Regions from separate parts of the Homo sapiens genome. Here region 1 is linked to region 2. The links come from fine-mapping of genetic effects on gene expression. Tissue or cell type: whole blood. Region 2 holds a variant in brackets; the other region holds the start of a gene. All regions are shown on one strand. Distances are between the middles of the regions.

Region 1 (8,172 bases), 150 kb before region 2:
TATTATTATCTCCAACTTCAGGTGAGGAGGCTGACTCAGAGAGGTTAAGTTGCTTGCATAAGGTCGCACAGCTGATCAATGTAGGAGCCTAAGATGTGAATTTGTGCCACTCGGATTCCACAACCTATTTTTATTTATTTTTCTTTTCTTTTCTTTTTTTTTTTTTGAGACAGCCTCGCTCTGTTGCCCAGGCTGGAGTGCAGTGGCATGATCTCAGCTCACTCTGCTTCCTGGGTGCGGGCGATTCTCCTGCCTCAGCCTCCCGAGTAGCTGGGATTACAGGCGCTTGCCACTATGCCCAGCTAATTTTTGTCTTTTTAGTAGAAACAGGGTTTCACCATGTTGGCCAGGCTGGTCTCAAACTGCCGACCTCAAGTGATCTGCCTACCTTGGCCTCCCAAAATGTTGGGATTACAGGCGTGAGCCACTGCGCCCGGCCACAATCTGTTTTTTCTAAGAATGCTGTTTGGTAATACACAAGCGAGCATACGGTTGGACATTATCCTTCCTCCCCTCCTTGAATCTGTATCTATCCCTCATCATTTCTACCTTCTGGCAGCTTCAATTTTCTCTGCGTGGGTCTTGAGGGAGGAAAAGCAAGTTCCCTTAGACTGGTAACAAGTGTTGATAAGAACAAGGTACCTGAGGGCACATCCCCAGGTGTGTTTTGCATATGAGTGATGTGTATCAGTGGGGGTGGTAGTGAGTGATGATTCCTCCTGGAAGATCAGTTCTTTTGGGGTTACGGTCACAGGGAACTGCCCACTCTATGTCATCTGGGGAGAAGCTCCGCACTGCCCAGGGACTTCTGGGAAGCAAAGCCTGAGTGTCACTACCACCTTAACAGCACCCACAGGCATCCCCCTGGCTCTTCCAACATACTCCACAGCAGCTAGGGGCTCGTATGGTGCTCAAAACAACCAGCACCCTGTGGGGTAGAAACACGAAGGCTGAGTTGTCCAGGCCCGACTCAGGGAGAGGAGAGCTATGCGGTGGAGGGGTGGATATCCCTGTGCACTGTCACCCTCATACCATCATTCACACCCTCCCCAGAGCCACTCCAGGTCCTCACATGTCCTCTTCCCGCCCTAGGAGTGCCCCCTCAGCTCCCCGTCATCCTGCTGGCATGGGGGAAGGCCTCACTCTTGGGCTGTGACTTGGGGGGCCAGGGCAGCTCCAGGCACCCTCTTCTCTCTCCACCCCCTCCCCATCAGTCCAGGGAAGCCCCAGACCCTGGTGGGGTGGGGGGAAGGTAAGGGGAACAGCCCTGGGGCCTGGTTCTCATTTTCTTGCCCAGAGTCTGAGCCTTTGTGGGAAACTTCTGAAGGTTATTAAACACCCGGAGGTCGTTAAATGCGCTGTTAACGAGGTATTAATCAACACCCCTCAGGAAAAAATAAAAAGACACCATTAACCCCCCCCAGGAAGCGTGAGGCTGAGCATTTCAGTCACATCTTTTGTTTGGTTGGGAGAAGAAATATACTCTAGCAGGGCCAGAATCTGGGCCCAGGCAGGCCTGGGGGCCCATCCAAGGCCTGGGGGCCCCAGGATGACTGGGGGAGGGGGAGGTGGGGAGAGGTTGAGGGGAGGGGAGACCCTTGTGCCCTTTGGCCCTGGGCTATAGAGGAGTCAAGTCACGTGAGGGAGTGTGTATGCGTGTGTCAGGGGCGGGATGGGGAGGGGTCAAAGAAAATGGATAGAAAGATCTCGCCCAGGCAATCCCCATGACCAGAGAAAGCCCTGGGAGGTGCAGAATGGGGCCTGCTAGCCTGGGCATTTTCTATTAGAATCCACAGCACCAATTCTGGGCTGCTCAGAGAGGGAGGGTGGTGAGCCTGCACCACTAGGAACTCTAGAAATGTTCTCTAACTCCTCCCCAGTTCAGCAAACAGTCAAATGGTTTTGAAATTTTAAATAACTCAGAGGTATTAAAGCAGCATTATTTCTAGTTCCCTGTACACCTGCCCTGAAGCCTCCTGGGCAGGAAGACCCCACTGTAGGCTTCCCTGCCAGCAAAGATGGCCGTGTTTAGGAGGCCAGAGCGACACTGGCCTGATGGTCAGAAGATGAATGGGGGAGAGCCACCATCAAAGCAGTCCCTAAACTCACACTAAAGGGCCCCCCACTTTTCACTTTTCCTGGGTAGAAAGGACCTGTGACCCTCTCTCCCTTAGCAACCCTTGTGCCCTGGGGCCACTAACTCTCGTCTGGGACTCTACAATAAAGAGTCACACAGCTAACCCCAGACAACCCTGGTCTTGGTTTGGTGAGGGAAGGGTGAAAACTATTCTGTTGTAATTTTTTCTTTGGTGCCTTCAGAATTGGGCTGGGGGCCTGACATTTCAGAGGAGGACCGTCACGTGATATATATGTGGGGCGTTAGCTGAATGCTTGTCAGGAAGTTTGAGCTGGCGGGAAGAGTGAGGGACAAGTTTCTTAAAAGATAGGAAAGCACATCAAACATCAAACCCGTCTGAAGGGAGAGGGGTCTTGAGTCAAGTAACTAAGACTTTATGTCCTGCTAAGTCACTCAAGACCTCTCCACTCCCTCAGGATCTGGCTGACACCCTAGAGTTTCCAAAAAGTTCCCAAAAGTCCCTGGGAAGGAAAGAGTACAAGATCCTCCCAGTTAGAATGGCCACGTAACCAGGGGCTCACTCCCTGAAGCTGCAGACACGGTGTGAGCTGTGCAGCCAGGCTTCACTACACGCAAGTGTTGGTTCTGCCCGAGCTCCTGAGACCAGTTTGGGGCCCAGGGCCCGGTCACAAGTGTCTGACCAGGGTTGGGGAATACGATGGGGGAGGGGGAGACTGGGAGCCAACAGGAGTATAAACAACTTTTGGGCCAGTCTCTCCTGCTCTACGACGCCCACCCATCTCCCTCCAGGGCTGGGGTGCCATCTCACTCCTAAGGAAAGGAGAGAGGGACTCCTGGGTTTCCAGTCATTTCTGCTGGGTGCAGAAAGGTTAGTTTGAGTGGGCTGGTAGGTGGAAGGTGTGTGCAAGATTTCATCCGTTGGGGAGGCTGCACACACCCATGTTCACCGGGCCAACAGCGGTCAGGGATTCCCCTCTGTTTGCTCAGACATGTGCAAAGGGAATAGTCTGTCTAATCTTAGGATGGGGGGAGACCTGAGAGAGAGGACGTGGAGTGTTAGGGCGGTGCTGGGACTGTGAGAGGCCCACTCAAAGTCTAGCTTGGAGGGGACAAGGTGGGGGTTTCAGCTCTCGCCTGTGTCTCCAGTGAACAGGCGAGGCAGAGTCCCGTTGAGTAGGAACCTGAGCATTTGGCCTTCTCAACCTTCCAGCCTCTTGGCTATCTATATACACTCAGACAGTGTGACATTTAGATCCTCAGGCCGCCAGTCTGTCCACTGAGCTGAGACCTTCAGGCTTCTCCAGGGGCTCAAGGACCCACTTTAAGGCCTGGGGAACCCTTAGTTCACTTCTGGGAAGGACTGTGTTCCCTTTTTCTAGCCTGCTCCCCAGCCCCCTTCCAGTGTCTTCTGGGTGGCGCTGGAGGTGGGTGGGTGGGGAGACTCTATAGGAATCAAGCCTGACACATGGTCTCTTTCCAGCTCTTCCCAGCCCCACTGCTGTCCCGTCTCATTTTCAAAACCAGACAAATCACTGGAAGTTGGGAGAAGTTCCATCAAGAAGGGGGACTTTATCACACAGTTGGAATTCTGACTCAAGTGTCTTGGCTTAGGGTCATTTTGGCTTGGGGTAATATCCCTGGTGTTCAACCTCCTAACTCCAGCCCGGAGTAGAGTCCTAAATCCTAATGGACTGCCCCACCCCCTGAGTTTTGGGAGCCTCTGTCCTGGCCTGTCTTTAAGAGATGTGTGGAAGCCGAGAAACCCAGGAGTTCTCCGGTAAAGGGACGCCCACCCAGGAGTGAGAAGCAGGGTGGTGCAGTGGGAAGGGCCATGGTCCGGTTTCTGCGTCTAGCTTAGCCTGGGTGCAGTCACTGGCACTCCAGATCAAGGGGTTCTCTTCCAGCCAGGTTGACAAGGTCTTGGGCACTCCCAGCCAACACCGTTACCCCCGCGTCCCCACCCTCGTACCTGCAGCACGTTGGGGTGCCGCAGCCGCTCCAGCAGCACCATCTCCTTAAGCAGCTTGTGGGCCGCCAGCCGATAGCAGCCCCTCCGTACCCCGAACTCGCGCACGCAGCTGCCCAGATCGTGGCCGCTAAAGTCCACCGCCTTGAGCGCCACCGCGGCACCGCCGGGCAGGCGGACCCGGTACACGGCCTTGGTGTAGCCTGAGCCCATGTACTGCGCGCCGGACACGTTGCGAAGCGCGGCGCAGCCCAGGCGCGGGCCCGGGCCGGGGGAGCCTGGGCCGGGAGCCGGGGGCCAGCCTGGGGCGCCGTCGGACAGGGGCCGGGCCCAAGGGGGCCGGGGGCGCGGCAGGCCGGGCCCGCCCGGAGCCAGGTCCATCAGGCGCCGCCGCTCCGGCCGGCCCGCCCCGGGCCCGGGGCCCCCGCGGGAATAGCGCTGCACCTCCTCGTAGCGCGCCCGGATCTGCCGGGCCAGCTCCCCGCGGCCCCCGCGACGGCCCGGACCCGGGGCCGGCGAAGGCTCAGGGGACTGGCCTGGCCTCGGAGGCTCCGAGCCCGGAGCGAAGAGCACGTTGAGGACGGAGCCCAGCAGGAAGGAGGCGCAGAAACCCGCGGCCACTGCCGCCCGCCGGCGCCGCATCGCTCCCCTCCCCCCGGCCGGCCGGCCCCGCGCGGCTCCCCGGCCCCGGCCCCGGGCGGCTCAGGCTCCGAGGCGGCTCCGCTCTGCGCCCCGCCGGCCCCCTGCCCAGCCCGCGCGCATGGCCCCGGCGGCCCCGACCCCGGCCCCTCGCGGGCGACACATCGGCCTGACACTTGCCTCCCTGCCGCCCTGCCCCCGCCGCTTATAAGGCCCAGAGCCGCCCCCCGCCCCCGCCCCCGCCCCCTCCCCCGCCCCCTCCCCCGCCCCTCCGCCTCCACCTCCCAGCTCCCGGCCCGAGCCCGTCCTCGGCGCCGCCCCCTCCGGCCGCCCGGCCCGGCCTTCCCCGCTGACTGACAGCGGGACCTCCTCCCGCGGCCGTCCGGGCCTGGGAAGCGGCGCGGAGGCGGCTCCGGTCCTGCCCAGCCCGCGGTCCCGCCCAGCCCGCGGTCCCCCGAGCTCCGTCTGGGAGCGGGGGAGGGGGCGGCGGCGGCCAGGAGGCGCGCGGGGGCTCCGCGCCCAACGCGAGGGCGGATAACGGGGCCGGGGCGGCCGGATAACGGGATTGGGAGGTGGATAACGGAGCCGGCCGGGCGGAGTGGGGGAAAGATAAAGGGGCGAGGCCGGCGGGTAGCGGGCTCCGGAGGGGACGAGCAGCTAAGTCCGGGGTGCGGAGATCCGAGTGATCTCAGCGCTCCCTCCTGGGACTGGGGGCCTCGGGGCGGTTTGGGCGCAGGGAAGGCGCGTGGACCCCGTCTCTCGCGGGTGGGGCCGGGGGTGGCGGCTCCTCGCTCAGCCCCGGATTCCGGATTGGGGCGATGGTGAGGGGGAAGCGGGCACAGCCGGGCCAGCACCTGCGAGCGCGCGTGGGACAGGAGCTCTAGGCATAGAGGAATGCTCGTGAGCTCGCCGAGGATGCCCTGTTCAACTCCTTTTACCAAAGTGTTTCTGATTTTCCTTGCCTCTAAAGCCCCAAATGCAGCTGGGGGTCGCTCCCTACCCCTCAAGATGCCTGGGGTCTGACGGGGTCAGCCGCGTATAAGAAACCATGTGCATGCTAGTAGCTTGGGCAAAGAGTGCGTTTGTGCCCACGGACGGCTGTCTGTGGAGTGTGTGCCTCGGCGTGTCTGAAGGGGCCATTGTGTCCGATGAAGGGAATGTGTACCTTGTGTGTAAGTTGGTGCTGACGCCACCAGAACTTCGGTCCCTCCTCCTCCCTCCCTGATTGCATCATTAGTGCTAATTGAGGGGCTTTCACACGCCAGTGCACTAGCTGTTTGGAGTGAGCTCCCCCCTCCTGGGAGAGATAAGCCGCTGCCCCTCCCCCTCGCAGCTCTCCTCTTCCCCGCCACTCTGAAACTGCCCACCTAGATCCTCTCACCTTCCTGGGCAGCTTCCTGCCTCCCTCTGGGCCAGGTTAATCTCTGTCCTCCTCACAGTGTCAGGGATTGGCTGGGGAGGGGTCAGGGAGGAGAAGGGTCCACAGCCTTTTTTCTGGGGGTGGGGGTGGGTGGGGGGGTATCCAGGGAGGGGAGATTTTCCCTGAAGAGGTCTGGCGTTCCTACAGAATGCAGTGTCTGTGATGAGAAAGGGACAGGAATTTCTGCCCTGTTCCTTTGGACATGGAAGGACCGAGGAGAGAGCTGAGTCCCTGATCTCCAGCCTATGATCCCACTGAGGTGGGCCTTCCAGCCCGGACTCCTTGTTCTCTATGGCTTGGGGAGTTGGGGCCCAGTCCGACTTGGCAAGCATGGAAAGGCAGGGTGAAGGAAGCCATGATTCCTCCGAGAACACTGGGTCTGGTGGAGTCAGGTCTGTACCGATAGAGCTGTTCTGCCCCACTCTGGGCCGTGGCTGCAGTCTGCAGGGTGTAGGGGGAAGGCTCTGAGCAGATGCCCTCTCCGCAGCCTTGCACCAGATGTCTTTGGTCTAATTAACTGTGCTGGGAAAACCAACCTGGGTTTGTAAACAGAGCTACTGGCTAAAGTCAACAGGGAACAGCAGCAAACAGCAAACCATTCCCCTCACACTCAGCCTTGGTCCAATTCAGACCCCTGGGGAAAACGGGGAGCTGGGTGGATTAGGAGGCCCCCCCCGGCCCACAGCTGAATCAGGAAAAGCCTGTCTGCCTGTGTCACCCCAATATGGCTGCTAGTTCCTTATCAGTTCCATGTCTTCTTTTCTGGGGAGGAATGAGGATTTTGGGAGGAACAGTTGCCATCCCAAGATAGGCTCTGTCCTCCTTCCAGCAATTTCCCCATAGACATCTACCCAGCCAAACGTCTCAATCCGTGAGGGAGCTGTTGTGGGGGAATATTCCCTGAAGAACTTTCTTTGGGGCTTGCTCTGCCCTTGTGTTTTGGAGAAACTTCTGAGGGTAAAACTTGGCGTTGTGAGTCTACAGCTCAGAGTAGGTGAATATAACATGAACATTGTTAAGTTTGTTACACATCATGTAGGTATTATAATAACATGTTCTGAAATTAGATAATTATTCCTGTGATATCTTTGCCAAGCTTCAGTGTTTCTGTTATGGTTTGAAAGTTCAAGGCACACAGGGGCCTGAGAAACAGGCACAAATGTGCGTGCAACACACACAGGTCCACGGAGCAGTTCAGAGCAGTAGCTCACACACAGGAACAAAGGCATCTCAGTGGCCTCCCTCGCATACTCACTGTCTCCCTCACCAGCTCTCAGACACAGACATATACAATCTGAGATGGAAATGGGTTTTTGGCTTCTGAAAGAAAGGGATTGAACTTTTTGAGCAGATTAGAGTTTCTGAATTGGCAGTTCTTGAGTTCTTAACTATATTTTGCTTGTTTGCTTTTTTTTTTTTTTTTCCTTTCTGCCACCCAGGGAGAGGAATCATTTCAAAGAATTGAAATACATGAAATGCTGCTGCAGGCCCCTGATCTGCAGTCTGCCCACCCACTCAAAGACCAGGTGGAGCCCATAGCCTGGGCCTCACAGGCCAGAGTCTGCAGGCCAGTGTCCAGCTCAGAGCCCTCAGTGCCATCTTCATACAGGAGCCATCAGCTGGCAGTCCTCCCTGTCTCCCCCAGGGCTTCTGGCAGCCCTCAGACCACAGTGTCTGTGCAAGGTCTGGAAGGCTCAGTACGTCCAATGCTCTATGCTTTCTTGCTCCCTCTATCTTTCTGCCATGCTCCTACCCCACTCAAAACACTTACTTGGATATTAATCCTTGGGAAGAGGGCAGATGGCCCAGACTCCAAAATGCTAAATTTTCTTTAAGGTGTCTTTTAAATACCTTCTTTCTGCATGTTTCTGTCACATCATCCTAGACTGTCTGAAGGGTTATTCTAGCCTCCCATCTGCCTTCTTTATTGTCCATCTTTTTCTCTGCAGGCCAAGGCTCAGACACCTCTTTTGGAGTATTACTGTCCTACTCAAAAACCTGGAGGATAAGCTGAACTGGCCTTCAGGCCTCCATGAGCTGGCCCCAGCC
Region 2 (8,192 bases):
TCTATTCTAGATTTTCTGTTTTCATCATTGAGCAACTGAGCATGTGTTATTTTTCAATGAGAATTTTTTTCCTAGAAAATAACATACATGTAGAGTGTACACCAGAGGTTGTAAACTCAGATTCTTACAGAATTCAGAATGGCAACAAAAATGAGTAAAGTGGACTGGGTTTAAGAAAAATCAACAGCCAGAAATGTAATCAAACTTTCATTTTTACTTGACTAGGGCATAAGTACATAATATAATATAAACGTGTGATATTGGGGATTATATATTAAGTTTGAAATTGAAAAATGTAACATTAAAAAAAGAAATATGTAATTATTAATTTTTTTCTTTCATACCTCATTACTTCTTTGCTTTACAACCAGAAATGTGACACTTTTTCTTTTACCCCAACATGTCAATGTTGAGTCTTGCATTTCATGTTGTGATGTGCTGTATAGAATTCAACCTTGAATCTTTTAACTGAGAGCAATCGTTTTATTTAGTTTCATAATGGAAAACAGCTGTTCATGGCTGAGCATTGATAGAATATTTGTATGATGGTTTTTATATTTAGGGTAACCACTCCTGAGATATTTGTAGAATTCTGGCATTCCAATGTTGCAAAATTTAGTTTTAGGGAATGAATTGTGGTTCAAAAAATTCCATTTATATTACAATACTGAGAAAGGTGAGTTCAAAAAATTGCATTTGTGGCACAATATTGAGAAAGATCATTTTCATAAAACTAGCAACTTTTTTGGAATCTCATCCTGTCTTCAGCTCCAGAATTTTTAGAGAGCAGTTGAAGAGACCTCTTTCATTTTGGAAAACTGATTTCAGCATAGGAAAATAAGCCAGATGATTCTTTGCCAAATGAGTTTCCCTAAGATATAATTTCACTAAGAATGAGAAAACTGAATAGCCATTTGCATATTTGTGATAATTCTTAAAGAGATACCCAAAAGGGTTAAATGGCTTGTGATATTTACTGAAAAGGCATATACTTTGATCCAATCTTTGCTGGTGAGCTGGGGTATTTTTGTTGGATGATATGAACAAGTTAATAACTTTTCAGCTGTTCCTCCCCTCCCACCCATGAAAGACCCCGACATTACACACTAACTACCCTTTATTTATTAGAACAGACGAGTGTTATGACTACTGCATATCCACTTTATCAGGCAAAGCACTGAACTCTTTATGCTTTTAGCCATGGGAGTAAGTCCCATTCACTAGGCCCATGATATGTGTTCTATTTTAACTTTTTAGCACAAGGCAATTCCTGGTGAATTATTTAGTTTCCCTAATTGTGCAAAATTGGCCACCTTAGATTTAAGATTCATAACAAGGTCAGTGTTAATGCTGATCATTTCAGGAGCTCTGTTTTGTAGCCAGGCTTACTAATTTTGACCTGTCTGCTTTAAGTTTTTCAAGGCTTCTCAACACACAAAGCTAAGTAATTTCCTGAAATTGTGCCTGTGATGGACACCATGACCAAAAGTTCTCCAATCACATTGAAGTCTCTTTGGAACCATAAATAAATATAGCTGACTGGGTGGTATTATTTTAACTGGGCTCTCATAAGCTTCACTAGGAAATGCCACAAATGATTTAACTTTTTCACACAACCTGTCCTGTAAGTTCTCAGCCATGTCGTCATCTTGTTGAGCAACCAGCGTTTCTGTTTAGTCTTCCATTTGCAAATACTTGTTTTTGTTCAAGGTATGAATTTCTCTATCCTCAGTAGATTCTCTTTTGTAAACTCACCATTAATAAAAGGTTTCAATGCATGAGCAATATTTTCTCCTTCTCCATAACTTCATTTCACAGTTGTGTCATTTGTTTTATTTGCTTTGAAAAATAAAACATGTTAAAACATCAGTACTTTCTTTTAGATCGTTAAGTTTCCCTACCAGCCTCACAGCTTTTTTGTTTGAATTCTTTTGATACTGACACATTTCATTTGCATGTCAAACTTGGAAGAATGATTTTAACTTCTCCAAAAATAAAAAGCTATTTTCCGTTTTTTTTTTTTTTTTTTTTTTTGCAAACATGCAAACACATAGCTCTCGTTGATGCTCTTTTGTGTCTGTCCTTTTGCTTGAGTTATGGATATGTATGTATGAATGTCCATATAAAAGTTACTTTCTTCCCAACTCTGTTATAAGAAAATCATAGTCTAGGACGATGATGAGTGACTACTGACCCTCGGCCTCAGTGATAGGAAGAGAATGGGGAGTAGTGAGGGGTATGGTGGTATGGAAAACTACTCAGCTCCAGAGGACTTATTCCTTGCTGGAATGTGATTTCATTATAGACCTTCTAAATTCTTAAAACTTAAAGAAGGTGTAATATACAAATAGAAAAGTGGATCTATTTTAAGTATATGGCTTGATAAATTTTCCATGAATAGATCATAGATTGAGGAACAGAACAGCATCAGGACCCATAAGGCCCCTCACACTCCTTTCCAATTGAGACCTTTCAGTTTTTTTAAGAAAAAAGTATTTGGATTCATATGTGAACTCTCAATTTCTAACTTTTGTCAAGTAATTGAAAACATTAAAAAAATCCCTTGGGCCAAACAAAACACATCTCTGGCCAGAGTCAGCTCAGAAGACTACAGCCTGAAACCTCTGGTTTCCATGCTTTTCTTACTGTCTGGCAGCTCACACCTCTCTTCTCCTCCATCTAGAGGGGTAGGCAACCATGTTTCTATGTCATGATACCAGCCATGGTTGACCGGGGTCTTTCTCTGGGACTCTGGAAATGGGACACTGGAATTCTCTTTATCCTGGTGATGGTGCCAAAAGTGGCTCCAGGCCTAGAGCAGGCCCTATTCCACCATCCATTGAGGAGCAGAGAAAGCTGATGCCCACAGCGAGAAGGAAGCAGAAGTGCAGAGTGAGAGAGTGGGAGAAACTGCTTGGTTCCCCAATGTTTTTCCAGTTTTTGAGTTCTTGGTTCTAGCCCCTCCTGAGGCCAGTATAGATAAGGGCTGAGGAGCCAATTAGGCTGGTAGGCTTCTTCAAGAATTCCAGAGGAACAGTCAGGTGGGTGGATCAGAGTAAATGATGCTGGTGACAGCCAAGGACTGGCAGCCAAGTGGGCGGGGTCTCCATGTGAGACACTTCTTCACTCAGAGTCACATCCTAGGCCAGTGGGCTGGGATCAGGGGTAGAAGGCCCAGCAGGCAAGTAAAAGATGTATATTCCCTCAGGTGAGCTTGTAACTGAGTTCTAGATTAAGAAATGTTGGAGACTGAATGATTATTTCCAATTCTCCACTCCCTCCCTGCAATAGAATTATATACCCATGCCCTTTGCCATATGGCTTTACATGCACCCTACTAGAGGAGGTAGAGCCTATATTCCCATGCTGTCAGCTGTGGGCTTGGCCAGTTACCTTGCTTTGGCTAATGGAAATATGGATGGACGTGACAACGAGACAGTTCTGAATTGAGGCCTTAAGAGTCATGGGAGGCTTCCACTAGCCCCTTTGTGTGCTGCTTCCATATGTAATGAGAAGAGCCTATCCCAGGTAGCTGCTGGTTCCAGGAGAGAGATATGGAACTGATCTGTACCCAACTCACCACCTGAATCACAGCCCTTCTACCCAACCCACAGATTGTGAGTGAGGAAAATAAATGTTTGTTTTTGTAAGCCACTAAGATTATGGGATGGTTTATTACATAGTATTATCACAGCAATGTCTGACTTATACAGAGAAGAACTGGGTCCTAGGCAAAATTAGGGACAGAAGAGCCTGATTGTATCACAATGGGCCCAGGAGAGGGGAGAGGAGAGCTCAGGCTCAGAGGCAACGTGGTGCAGGAATGTGGGTTCTTAGAGGTCATCCCTGAGGGCACCAGATCCATGTATGATTGGAAAAGGGAAATGAGAGTGGTCTGGGGGAAATACCTGTCACCTCATTGATCATCTGGCTTGAAGGAAAATCAGGAGGAACACAGGAGCCAAGTAGTTGTAACTGAGCTGGTGACATTATTCCAAGCCGTTGTATCTGCTCAAACTTTACATACTCTCCAGCTTGGTTAGCATTGACTCAGGAGCTGTGAGCATCGGTGGATCTAGTTGTGAGGATCCTGGGAGGGTAGCAGCAGGAAAAATAAGGTAAAAGAGGGCACCAGCACCACAGCTCTCAAATGCTCACAAGTGTGAGTGCCTGTGTGTGGTTATCTGACAGCTCTTTTATAAATCTGATGGTTGCTTTCT[A/T]CCCACCTGCTTGCTGTTTTTGTTGACATCTCAACCTGGAGTGGGTTTGAGGCTGGGAGGCTGAAACATACTCTGACCACATTCACCCACTTTCTGAGAACTTGCAGGCTCAGATGAAGCCTGTGAAACCACAGACCTATATAGGACAACTAGATGAACACGGCACAGTGGGGTGGCCAGTGATATATGTTGCCACAGCAGAGGATCCTGGGCAGTCGTAGCACAGACAGGGTGTTTCTGATTTTCCTTCTTGAAATTCCTCTTCCCAGGGGCTTCCAAGCTCAGGAAGCTCTTGTCATCTCCTAATCGAGGCAGATGAAGATGGGAGTTCTGTAGGGAGGCGTTTCCACTTAATCAAGGCCAGTCATACCCAAGCTCTAGGATTAGACAGATCTGCAGATCTGCGCAGTTACTTGGGCAGCCTGTTTTCTGTCTCTGCTACCTTGTTATCTGGCTCTTCTCTGAATTCCTGTAGCTTTTCCAGGACTTAAACAATGAGATTAACAGCTATCATTTTTTGAATGCCTACCATATGCTAGGCTCTCTAGTGGATCTTTTACAAGTATTATTGATAATAACAGCAAAGATAACTAATATTTACTAAGCATTTGCTAGGTGCCAGGCACTATGCCAAGCCCTATACTTGTATTAACTCACCGAGAATCCTCACAACGAGGCAACATGGGTGTCATTATTTTTATACACAAATAATAAACGGTGGAGCTCACTCCACCATTTGGATCTAGATCGGTCTGACTCCAGAGCTTTTGTTTTTTCACTGGTGATGCTCTCTTGCTTGATCTTGCTCTCTAGCCATGCCAGGACACTGTGCAGTTGGGCACGATAGGCTGGGGCAGATGCAGAGGGCTGGGATATGGAGTTAGATCAGGAGGATGAATGCAGGATGGTAGAAGTCCAGTGAGTCGTTCATGAAGGAGACAGGGATAAGGTTCAACAAGAAGTATGGTGAGGCCCTAAAAGGCAAGAGGAGCAGAGGTACAGACAACCCAGAAGCCATCAGATGTCCTGGCAGGCAGTCCAGGGGCAGGACAGCAGATCCTGGAGGAGACAGAGCTGGCCACAGCACAACTCATAGTTCTGGCTCTGCCCTTTACTAACTTTTGGGCAAATGACTTACCTGCCCTGAATTTCAGTTTCTTCATTTGTAAAATGGGCATAAAGAAACCTCCTTCATAGGGTTGAAATAGCTGAATGAGATAGCAAACATAAAGCACCAGTGACAGTGCCTAGTCCTGAGGATGTGCTCCACACATAGACTGCTACGTTTCTAAGACAGGCTCAGGCACAGAGACAGGGAGAACCCAGGCTATCATAACTGAGAGTCAAATAAAGTGCCCCAGGAGCAGCATTCTAACTAACCTGCTGACTGGGATTAGTATTGGTTTTAGAGACTGGAATGGGGTTAAGTGACCTCATTTCCATATAGAGGGTGGCTGAACTGAGTGGACAAGCAGGTACTGGTTTTTTCATAGATGGGTGTTGAAATCCCAGCCCCACACAGCTGACAGGCTCTTGTTCAGGACTTTGGACTTCCAGTCTGATGTCCTTTCGATGATACTGTGCTGGTGGTAAATAAACACTTGACATAAAATATGTTCAGGCATGTCAATGGCACATGCATTGTAATGGTTTTGAAACATGTCTGCAAATTCCTTGATGTTCCTCCCACTGAGAGGTGGCATTGAATTCCTCTCCCCTTGAACATGGACCAGCCTCAGTGACTTGCTTCAAAGGAAGAGAATGTGGCGAAAGTGATGCTGTGTGTCTGCTACGGCTGTTTAGAGAAGCTTCTGCCTGGCTCTGTCTCCCGGGATGCTTGCCTTTGAAACCAGTTGTTATGTTAGGAGAAAGCTCAGGCTACATAGAGAGTCCACATGAAATTTTGGACCAGCAGCCCCACCTAAGGTCCCAGCTAACAGCCAGCATCAATTGTCAGATCATCCTTGAAGTTGTCCCAGCTGATACCAAGTGGAGCAGGGATGAGCTGTTCTCAACAAGCCCTGCCTAAATTGCTGATTCATGAGCAAAATAAAAGTTGTTGTTTTCAGCCAATAAGTTGTGGATGGTTTATTTTGTAGCAATAAGTAAATGGATCATGAACTTGCATAGTAGAGCACAGAGGAGAAGCAGCAGGATCCAGTTCTAAGAGCTTGTGTTCCAGAGTCACGCAGTTGATTATGCATTTTCAGCTCTGCTATATGCTTGCTGGGAAAGTTATATACCCTCTCGAGACTGTTTTGTCCTCTGTAAAATGGTAAGATGGTAAGATTGATTGTATGGGTGTTGTATTAGTTTGCTAAGGCTGCCATAACAAGATACTATGGACTGGATGGCTTAAACAACAGAAATTAATTTTCTCATAGTTCTGGAGGCCGGAAGTCCAGTATCAAGGTACCGGTAGGTTTGGTTTCTTCCGAGGCCCCTCTCCTTGGCTTGCGGATGGCTGCCTTCTCGCTATGTCCTTGCCTCCCAGCATGTGCCTAACAATGTTCACATTTCCTCTTCTGTAAGGTCACCAATCCTATTGGATTAGGGCCCACCCTAATTATGATTCACTTTAACTTAATTACCTGTTTTAAGGATGTGTCTCCAAACACAGTCATTCAGAGGTACTGGGGGTTAGGACTTCAACGTACGAGTCTTGTTGAGTGGTGGGGAGTGGGTAGATACAATTCAGCCCATGACAATCGTTACCAGGATTAAATGAGGTAAAACAAACATAAAGAACAGGTTACTCGTGGACACATTGGAAGTGTTTAATAAATAATGGCCATTATTATTACATATGTGATGTCAACCTGATTAATTATACCTGATACATGCAAAAAAGGGGAACACCACTATGTATGCCCCAGGGGAAGCTGTGTATTCCTCTCACTTGGATGATAAGAGAAGACAAGCTCTCTACTAAGCACACTATGTCCCTCCACCTCCTAACCTGGGCCCCTGGCTTAGTGATGGTGGCAAGAGAGGGGTTGAGGAGTCCCCTCTGGAGGAAGGAAGCAGCATTATTTCTTGACCCTCAGAGACAGCTGCTTCCTTTGGGGACCCTTGGAAGGGGCTCCTTGTTTAAGCCTGGAAGATCCCAGGGTGATATCAGGTAAGGAAAGACCTGGGACAGTGTACAAACCCGAAGTCACTCTGTCTGCAATTGCCTGGGTGCTCCAGAACTGACCCTTGGAGTCATCCCCACTGGAGGCAATTTGGAGAAGGTATTTTCGAGAGAAAGTCCCCACGCAGAAAACCTTTCTGCCAAGTCCTTTGTTTTCCTAATGTTGCCGCAGTGTCTGGAGCTGAATTTTAAAAATGGCATTTTCCTGGAAAGGATTTTTTGGTCTTTTTTGGAAATGTCTCATGTAAAACAAGATCACCAGTGGGCCATTGAGTCTGGTCTCCCCGGGATGAGCTTGGGAAATGGCAAGTGGGGGAGGGCGAGTCTGGGTGGGAAAAAGAACAAAAAACAGAGTTGGAGGGAAAGCGGGACGTGACAAAGGGGTCAGCATTCATGTGTTAGGAATAGGCTCAGAGCTCAGGATTCATTCCAGTGGGTAAGGCATCGTGCCGGGGAGGGAGGAAGGGGAAGGGGCCCTTGACAGCAGGGCTGTGGGAATGTCCTCTGAAAGCCTCCATTCACCACAGAAATGGACCTATCCCTGGGCCTGCCACCTCCTTCACTCCCTTGTGTGACATGGGTAAGAAGGCAAGAATGATACAACAGGGGCCGTGTCTCTTCCATCAGACTGGATTTCCTTCCTGAAGGGAGGAACTATAGGTGGCATTCATTCTACGGCTCTAAGAGGGTTGCCTTGTATCTTCCCATCAGACTGGAGGGTCCCCAAGTACAGGGACCCTGTCCCTCCTTGACCTAAGGAATCAGTAGAGCTGAGAACCTCCTTCCCTTCCTTCTCTCTGTCTCCGTGAACTCACTGTGTAGGAGGAGCTTGGTTTGTG

What was found. PIP is the estimated chance that this variant, and not a neighbour inherited with it, causes the effect.
Region 1: it holds the start of PKDCC, and the variant in region 2 is fine-mapped to the expression of PKDCC in whole blood (TOPMed, PIP above 0.99).

What each region holds. Positions count from the first base shown.
Region 1 is chr2:42,044,734-42,052,905 of GRCh38, reverse strand. It overlaps PKDCC (protein kinase domain containing, cytoplasmic), which reads right to left and starts at 4,885. Exons shown (of 7, transcript NM_138370.3): 1 at 4,068-4,885. The coding sequence starts at 4,706. RefSeq lists enhancers at 1-111, 2,782-3,283, 3,997-4,256, 5,757-5,876, 5,500-6,004 and 1 more and silencers at 4,297-4,366, 4,497-4,596, 4,607-4,786, 4,937-5,186, 5,297-5,586.
Region 2 is chr2:41,892,831-41,901,022 of GRCh38, reverse strand. It overlaps LINC01913 (long intergenic non-protein coding RNA 1913), which reads right to left. Exons shown (of 3, transcript NR_033996.1): 3 at 6,977-8,192. Among named protein-coding and RNA genes, the nearest start is that of LINC01913, 19 kb to the right of the region's middle. RefSeq lists a silencer at 4,250-4,299 and an enhancer at 4,430-4,479. The variant A/T (reference allele first, on the strand shown) is at 4,221.